2 linked regions of the Homo sapiens genome follow. Changing the gene in region 2 together with the main gene of any one other region gives a genetic interaction. Each region holds a gene or a part of one and is shown on either strand. Other genes may lie near its edges. The genes, in order: GNB1 and PIK3R5.

Region 1 (3,812 bases), on a different chromosome or scaffold from region 2:
ACACAAACACTGTGATCTTGGACACTGTGATTACTGTCCCCAAAGAGTAGAATTTATTCCAAAGGATAGTGAGAAAGTAGTCATCACTGACAGGTGTGCATGTTGCTGTAGCTGCCAGCCATCAGGGCTAATCTCATGGAGGAAGGAGGGAAGCGGGCTGACCAAGGCTGTGGTCAGGACTGCAGCAGAGCTCTGTCCAACCAACAGATACATCCTTCTAAGTCTCCTCACAAGGCCAGGGGCTGGAAACACTGCCTAGCCATCCGCGTGCTAAAGAGGAGGGCAGGTTCCCTGGTTAGCTGTGCCCCTGACCAGTAAGGCTCTGTAACCACTGGTGGCCTGAGTTATCTTACTGTCTTTCCCCTCCAGGATCCCAACCACTGCTCAGCTGTAGAGGTGGGAACGGGGACTGGCATACAACACCCTGTGAGTATCTGTGAGACAAGTGGTCAACACAGAGAAGTTTCCCATCGGGAGTTTTCTGTATCCCCATCTGTACATGAGGTTGTATAAGGATCAGAAAGGAGAACATCTAATCCAGAAAAGTTTAAAATTTAGCAATCTGAACGGCTAGCAGAGACGGCAGAGGACCCGACCCCACACCTCCACCCAGACTCACGCAAATGGCATTGATGTCAGACTCGTGGCCAGTGAAGGTCTGCCGGCACATGCCTTCTCGCACATCCCAGAGTTTGGCTGAAGCATCACAAGCACCAGAGACGAACAGTCTGGTGTCAGGAGCAAGAGAAAGGCTCATGACATCTCCAGTGTGTCCGGTAAACGTGGTCGTCTGCTGGCCGGTCTCGATGTCCCACAGGGCACTGGAGCAGGAGCGAATGACAAGGGGACATCAGCCTTAACTTCTTGGGTGGCTAGTCATGTGACAGACAATCTGTCCTTCAAACCACCCAGGGCCACAGTGAGCCTCTGCACTGTTACTTTAAAAACGTAAATTGTTTAAAGACAAATTTAAATGTAATACAACTTTGGAAGGGAAACAAAGCAAAGCAAGCAAAATTATACAGAGATGAGCACAGGGCCTGGGCTTCAGAATGACGGGATCGCTACCTCAACTCAAATGCCAGCAAACAGGGAGCTGGGGGCACTTTTCAAGCAGCACCACTGAGGCTGTGCCCCCTCTTTGGTCATGGATGGGCATGGAAGGGGTGGCAGGAAGCTACGTGGAGGCCCTGGATGGCGGAGGGGACGCGACTCTATCTGTGGCTGCTCCCTCTGTGCCCTCCCTTGGCCTCCCCTCCACAGGGTCTCAGAAAAGGCAGGCAGGAGAAGGCCAATGCCAGGTAAACAAATGGCTCACAGCAATTCTGAGGTCCTCCTGCCCTTTCCTGGAATCACAAACAGGAGAGCAGCTGAGTTCTCAGTGATCACACCTGGTATTTTTTTTTTTTTTTTGAGACCGAATTTCACTCTTGTTGCCCAGGCTGGAGTGCAATGGCGCGATCTTGGCTCACCACAACCTCCGCCTCCCGAGTTCAAGCGATTCTCCTGCCTCAGCCTCTCCAGTAGCTGGGATTACAGGCATGCGCCACCATGCCCGGCTAATTTTGTTTGTATTTTTAGTAGAGACGGGGTTTCTCCATATTGGTCAGACTGGTCTCGAACTCCTGACCTCAGGTGATCCGCCCGCCTCGGCCTCCCAAAGTGCTGGGATTACAGGCATGAGCCACCGCGCCCGGCCATACCTGGTATTCTATCACATTTCTGCTTAACAAGCTGTCAAAAGGTGAGACGCTGACAGAGCCCTGCACAGAGCAGAAGCCTGGCTCAGGTGTAAGGACAGCTGTGAGGGCCACACGCCCACCAACATACTATTCTCCTGTGCCTCGACCCATGGAAGGCAACACCAGAGAGCACTGTCCGTTCATGTCAGCCTCAGAGGAAAGCCTGGCTGGGCCTGGCAATGCAAATCCAATCAGCCAATCTCAACAGACACTGCACAGGGAGCCTCCTCTCTAGGGCCTGAGGGACTGACTGCAGAAGGGAAGCAAGATACGTAAAAGAGTCTGAAAAAAATGATTAATGAACAGAAGCACTTTAAAAATATCTTCTAATAAATAAAGTCTTCTCAAGATTGACAATCTAGGTGACAAATCTTTTGTAAATCTATGAAATTTATACAACGAGGACACCTTATAATACCACAGATGCTTTGCTGACAAGTTGGTTAAGGGCCCATGTCTCGGTGAACCCCACCAACTGCGTGACTAGGGGTCTGTGCCCTGGGCTGGGCACAGCTCCTGCCACCAAATCATGCCTCAGAAGACCAGAAAAACCCACATGGCCAGCTGAAGTCTAAAATGACTCTCATAAAATAACTATCTGGACATTTAATTTAGTACTTTGATGCCACAAATGAAAAAATTCTAGCATTTAAGTGGGCTTCCGTTTACCTGTAAGGTGAAAACACTAAAAATGAAGTCTGATGGAATCACTTGAATTGTGACGTCTGTTATTTTTAGTCTGTGCTCATTGTTCACAATGACATGATGCTATCAGAAAGGGACAATCAAAACCCACCCTACTCCCACCTATCATCACCTAAGGAGGTACAAATATATAGAGGGGAAAAAAAAGAAGAGCAGGTACTTTGAGCCTGATTGTAGTTAAAATATCTATGTTGGCCAGGCATGGGGGCTCACACCTGTAATCCCAGCACTTTCAGAGGCTGACGCAGGCAGATCACGAGGTCAACGGATAAGAGACCATCCTGGCCAACGTGGTGAAATCCCGTCTCTACTGAAAATACAAAAATTAGCTGGGTGTGGTGGCGCACACCTGTAGTTCCCAGCTACTCGGGAGGCTGAGAGGGGAGAATTGCTTGAATCTGGGAGGCAGAGGTTGCAATGAGCCGAGATCACGCCACTCCACTCTAGCCTGGAGACAGAGAGAGACTCTATCTCAAAAAAAAAAAAAAAAAGAAAAAAATGTGTATTTTAGTTCTCAGCTGCTGAAAATTAAACTTTGTAAATTTATTAGAAGTATAATGAGGCTAGGCACGGAGGCTCACGCCTGTAATCCCAGCACTTTGGGAGGCCGAGGTGGGCAGGTCACCTGAGGTCAGGAGTTCAGGACCAGCCTGGCCAATGTGGTGAAACCTGGTCTCTACTAAAAATACAAAAATTAGTCAGGCGTGGTGGCGGGCACCTGTAATCCCAGCTATTCAGGAGGATGAGGCAGGAGAATCATTTAAACCCGGCAGGCAGATGTCGCAGAGCCAAGATTGAGCCATTGTACTCCAGCCTGGGTGACAAGAACAAAACTCCATCTCAAAAAAAAAAAAAGTATAATGAATTCACACATTGCTACTATGTGTTTTAAATCTTAAGGCCACTTAAATTACAGATGGCCTAATATTATGTCAAGAACCTTATTTCCTCCATGTTCACAGAGGAATGTGCCAGGGGCTGTGGGTTCTCAAGGCACTGCCTGCCCCGGGTCAGGTACTTACCACGTGGTGTCTCCAGAGCTGGTGACGATCTGATTGTCATCCAGGAATCGGCAGCAGGACAGGTAACCTGGCAAAGAACAGGCCTAAGTGATGAGCTGAATCCAGCAGGCCTTGCACCCAGCCTCATACATAGAGAAACACATTGGCCCGGTGGAAGCTCTACGTCTAAGGTAAGACCAGCACCATGCTAGTGACCTTTTATTCCCATCTGTGCACACAGCAGAAGGTCCACACGCACTGCTGGTGAGGGTGAGAGCCTGGCCAGGCAGGACAGCACGTCCCACAGAGACCCACAGCTCCGTGATGGGGGCAGAAGCAGAAACCACACCCATGAAACATACAC
Region 2 (3,812 bases):
GGTGCCCATTAGGAGGACCCTCTGCAGGCCTTGAAGAGTTGGGTGCTGTCTCACCTTGACATGTTGGGAGCCCAGGGACCCCGGCCTTCACCACCTCAGAAATTATAGGCCCCCGGCCCTCCTCATTCCCAGCCCCAGGGGTTCACTTCCCACTCACTCCCCTGAGCAACACTTCTTGACTTCCCTCTAGGTGAAAACAAACACAAACAAAATGATAGATGTTGAGACAGAGGGAAAGGATGCTAAAATGTTGTAGTTTAGTAAGTAAATAAGATTCCTCTGGGGGAGCTGGGGCAGGTGGGCTGATGAAGAATCATCAAAGCCCTTTAGACCTTTATTCGGACTCCAGGCACCATCCTAAGCATGGTTACATGTGCTGACTCATTTAATCCTCACGTTAACCCCGTGAGAAAGGGATTTTTCACATAAGGGAAGTGAGGCACCGAGAGATTTGTAGAAAGAGCTTACAGTTGGGAGATGGTCTCACTTTCATTATCTGTAAATTGAGAATGATGATAAATTCTTCGGGAGAGAAATTATGCAAGCTGGTGAGGGCAGGGGCTCGGCTGGGCTCGTTACAAGGTTGTAAGGGGCTGCTTATACAAGCCCACCTCCTTTTTCTTACAGATAGAGAAATCAAAGTGAGTTTCTTCCCAAATGATGGGGACTTTGACAGAGACTAGTCCTGTCTCTGCCCTGTCCCCGGGCACCGACGTCCCCAGAGTGTGGAGGGAATGCTGCCCTGCGTGGTGCTCCTTTGCACTGGGTTTAAACGCAGTGTGGAATTGAGAGAGCAAGAGCTCTCATCACATGCAGCTCATACTAAAGCATTTATGGATACAAAGCCGCCATGGCTCGAATTTGCTTCGAGGTCATGCAGTGATGGAGGGGTTGGCATGGGGGAAGTGAGAACAGCCGTGCGTTGTTAACTGTAAACAGAGTGATCAGCGCCTCAGAGCCCACGATTCTTTTAATTTGGGGTATGTTTGAAAGTTTCCATAGTAGCCGGGCGCGGTGGCTCACGCCTGTGATCCCAGCACTTTGGGAGGCCGACGCGGGTGGATCACGAGGTGAGGAGTTCAAGACCAGCCTGGCTAACACATTGAAACCCTGTCTCTACTAAAAATACAAAAAAAAAAAAAGTTAGCTGGGCGTGGTGGCGGGTGCCTGTAGTCCCAGCTATTTGGGAGGCTGAGGCAGGAGAATGGTGTGAACCCGGGAGGCGGGGCTTGCAGTGAGCTGAGATCGTGCCACTGCACTCCAGCCTGGGTGACAAGAACAAGACTCCGTCTCAAAAAAAAAAAAAAAAGAGAAAGGTTCCATAATAAAGAAATGTAAACACTGGCACCAAGAGGGAATCTGGGTATCCATCGGGAAGGGAGGTAGCAGTGGCCAGGCACACAGTCCCCTCCCAGCCAGTGAAAGCCTGTATCATGGCTTTGGGCTGATTAGAAAAGGTGTCCCTCATAAGCTCAGGAAGAAGATGCACTCTGACTTGGCATCCCCTCCTCCGGGCAGATGCAGCCCCACGGCACGAGGAATTTCATGTCCCGCTCGCCCCAGACCACACTGCACAGCACCACGTTGCTGTCCAGCTCCCCCTGAAAACTGATCGCTTGGCTTCAAGTCACCTTGCCTAAAATATGATCCTCATTTGAGTAATCTTGCATCCACTCAGCTGTCTCATAGGAAAAAACGTTTATATAAAAATTAAGTAAATTTAGTTTTAAAGAATTAAGTTCAATTTTGAAAAGATCTTTGAAAACAACAGCTGAAAAATGCTCAGCAGTGAACCCCACGCTTTCCCCTGGAAACCTGGACCCTGGAGCTGTTGCTTCTGTCCTGGCCTCCTGTGGTCACCTCCTCGAGCTCTGCCTGGGCTTGAGGAGGCCCTGGTCTCAGTGGAGCTGAGCACCAGCAGGCACGAGGGGGGTGGCTGCACTGTGGCATGCTGCGCACCCCTGGGTGCCATAGCCGGTCCCCTGTGTCCCCAGCACCGTGCTGCTGCTGAACCCAGTGGAAGTGCAGGCCGAGTTCCTTGCTGTAGCCAATAAGCTGAGTACGCCCGGACACTCGCCTCACAGTGCCTACACCACCCTGCTCCTGCACGCCTTCCAGGCCACCTTTGGGGCCCACTGTGACGTCCCGGGCCTGCACTGCAGGCTACAGGTATGTACCTGGGGCCTGGGGCTCTGGTGGAGCACCTCTCTGAGGAGGTAGCACCCTCTCCCTGCTTCATCTCAGCCACGGTCTCCAGGGTACACTTAGTCTCCTGCACCCAGGTGACATGGCAGGGTGGTGGCTGGAGGGCTGACCTCATAGAGGGTGTTTCTGGTGTGCTGGATCCTAACCAGCTGGGTGGCAGCCTGGGCAGTAGGACTGGGTGCTGATAACTGGTGCCTCAGAAGATGGCATATGCCATAAGAACGAGAATGAGCTTTGGGCTGAAGACCTGGCATCTAGGCCTGGCTCTGTCACAGGTGTCACAGGTCGGCTGTGTCACCCCACACAGCTCCTTCCCCTCTATGGGGTACAGTGAGGAGCGCTGAAGTCCCTCCTAACTGCAGTGCCGTGGCTCTGGATCTTTCTCTCCTGACCATTTCCTGAGAATGGAAGGGCAGGGAGAGGCCTGGCTGCCTGGCCAGCTGTGGGTAGGAGATGGGTGATGAGGCTGGGAGGGGACAGATCACTGCCTCCCTCAGTAAGAAGCTAGCAACTGGAACAGGTGGACAGCTAGCTCACGGTCCAGGAGCAAAGCCCATCTCCTCCTGGGGTTTCAGGCCAAGACCCTGGCAGAGCTTGAGGACATCTTCACGGAGACCGCAGAGGCACAGGAGCTGGCATCTGGCATCGGGGATGCTGCAGAGGCCCGGCGGTGGCTCAGGACCAAGCTGCAGGCGGTGGGAGAAAAAGCTGGCTTCCCTGGGGTGTTAGGTGAGGCTCTTGGGAGAATGGGGTTCTCCCACATTCCCCATGGCCTATTCTAGGTCCCAAGGTGCACGGTCCAGGCGGGCCTGGTGGCTCTGCTCCACACAGTCACTCAGGGACTCAGCTTCTTCAGCATCTCACTGCTCTGCCATCCCCTAGGGTGTCTCATTCCTGTCTATAGGGGCAGGGTGGGGGTGCTATCATGATGGCAGCTTGTGGGAAGAGGAAAAGAGAGTGCTTACGAGGGCAAAGGCTGGGCTTTTCTGTTGAAGGTGATGCAGAAGCTGGGCACATCACTTCCGCTCATGTTCCTTTGAGCCCGCCTTGGTCACGTGGCCACATCTTGCCCCAAAGGAGCCTGGGAAACATCGTCTCTATGACTCCAGTACCATAGAAGGGAGCACAGACTTTGAGGAACCATTAGCATTCCCTGTTACAATATTCCTCATAAAAACCTTCTGGGCTAGTACTATTATTCTCCCATGGGCACATTGTAAAATGAGGCTCAGAGGTTGTGGTTTGGCCACATTCGCACAGCTCATAAAGGGCATGCCATCTACATGGTGTGCTTGAAAGAAGGGCCTCTGGCTTGGAGCCTGGCACCCTGGCTGTAACTCAGCCTCAGCCTATCCAGCTACATATCCTTGTGCCGATCCTGTCCCATCTCTGGTCTCTTCTCCAAGGCAAGGGGACTGGACTGGCCAATCTCCAAGGCCTCTTCCCAGCCCTCTTCTCCTATCCTCCCTGTTCTTACAGACACTGCAAAACCAGGGAAGCTCCACACCATCCCCATCCCTGTCGCCAGGTGCTACACCTACAGCTGGAGCCAGGACAGCTTTGGTAAGGAGCCGGGGCCCTGGTGACACCCATGCCCCACACTGCCT

Evidence for each region.
Region 1: of PIK3R5 (region 2) and GNB1, changing one enhances a phenotype caused by changing the other (phenotypic enhancement), as found in Homo sapiens cells (one study listed by BioGRID).

What each region holds. Positions count from the first base shown.
Region 1 is NC_000001.11:1,789,776-1,793,587, forward strand, and holds part of GNB1 (guanine nucleotide-binding protein G(I)/G(S)/G(T) subunit beta-1), read right to left. Parts: intron 3,537-3,812; coding exon 3,470-3,536; intron 822-3,469; coding exon 620-821; intron 1-619. UniProt on the Homo sapiens protein: Guanine nucleotide-binding proteins (G proteins) are involved as a modulator or transducer in various transmembrane signaling systems.
Region 2 is NC_000017.11:8,889,095-8,892,906, reverse strand, and holds part of PIK3R5 (phosphoinositide 3-kinase regulatory subunit 5), read left to right. Parts: intron 1-952; exon of another isoform or gene 953-1,119; intron 1,120-1,994; coding exon 1,995-2,169; intron 2,170-2,780; coding exon 2,781-2,934; intron 2,935-3,684; coding exon 3,685-3,768; intron 3,769-3,812. UniProt on the Homo sapiens protein: Regulatory subunit of the PI3K gamma complex. Required for recruitment of the catalytic subunit to the plasma membrane via interaction with beta-gamma G protein dimers. Required for G protein-mediated activation of PIK3CG.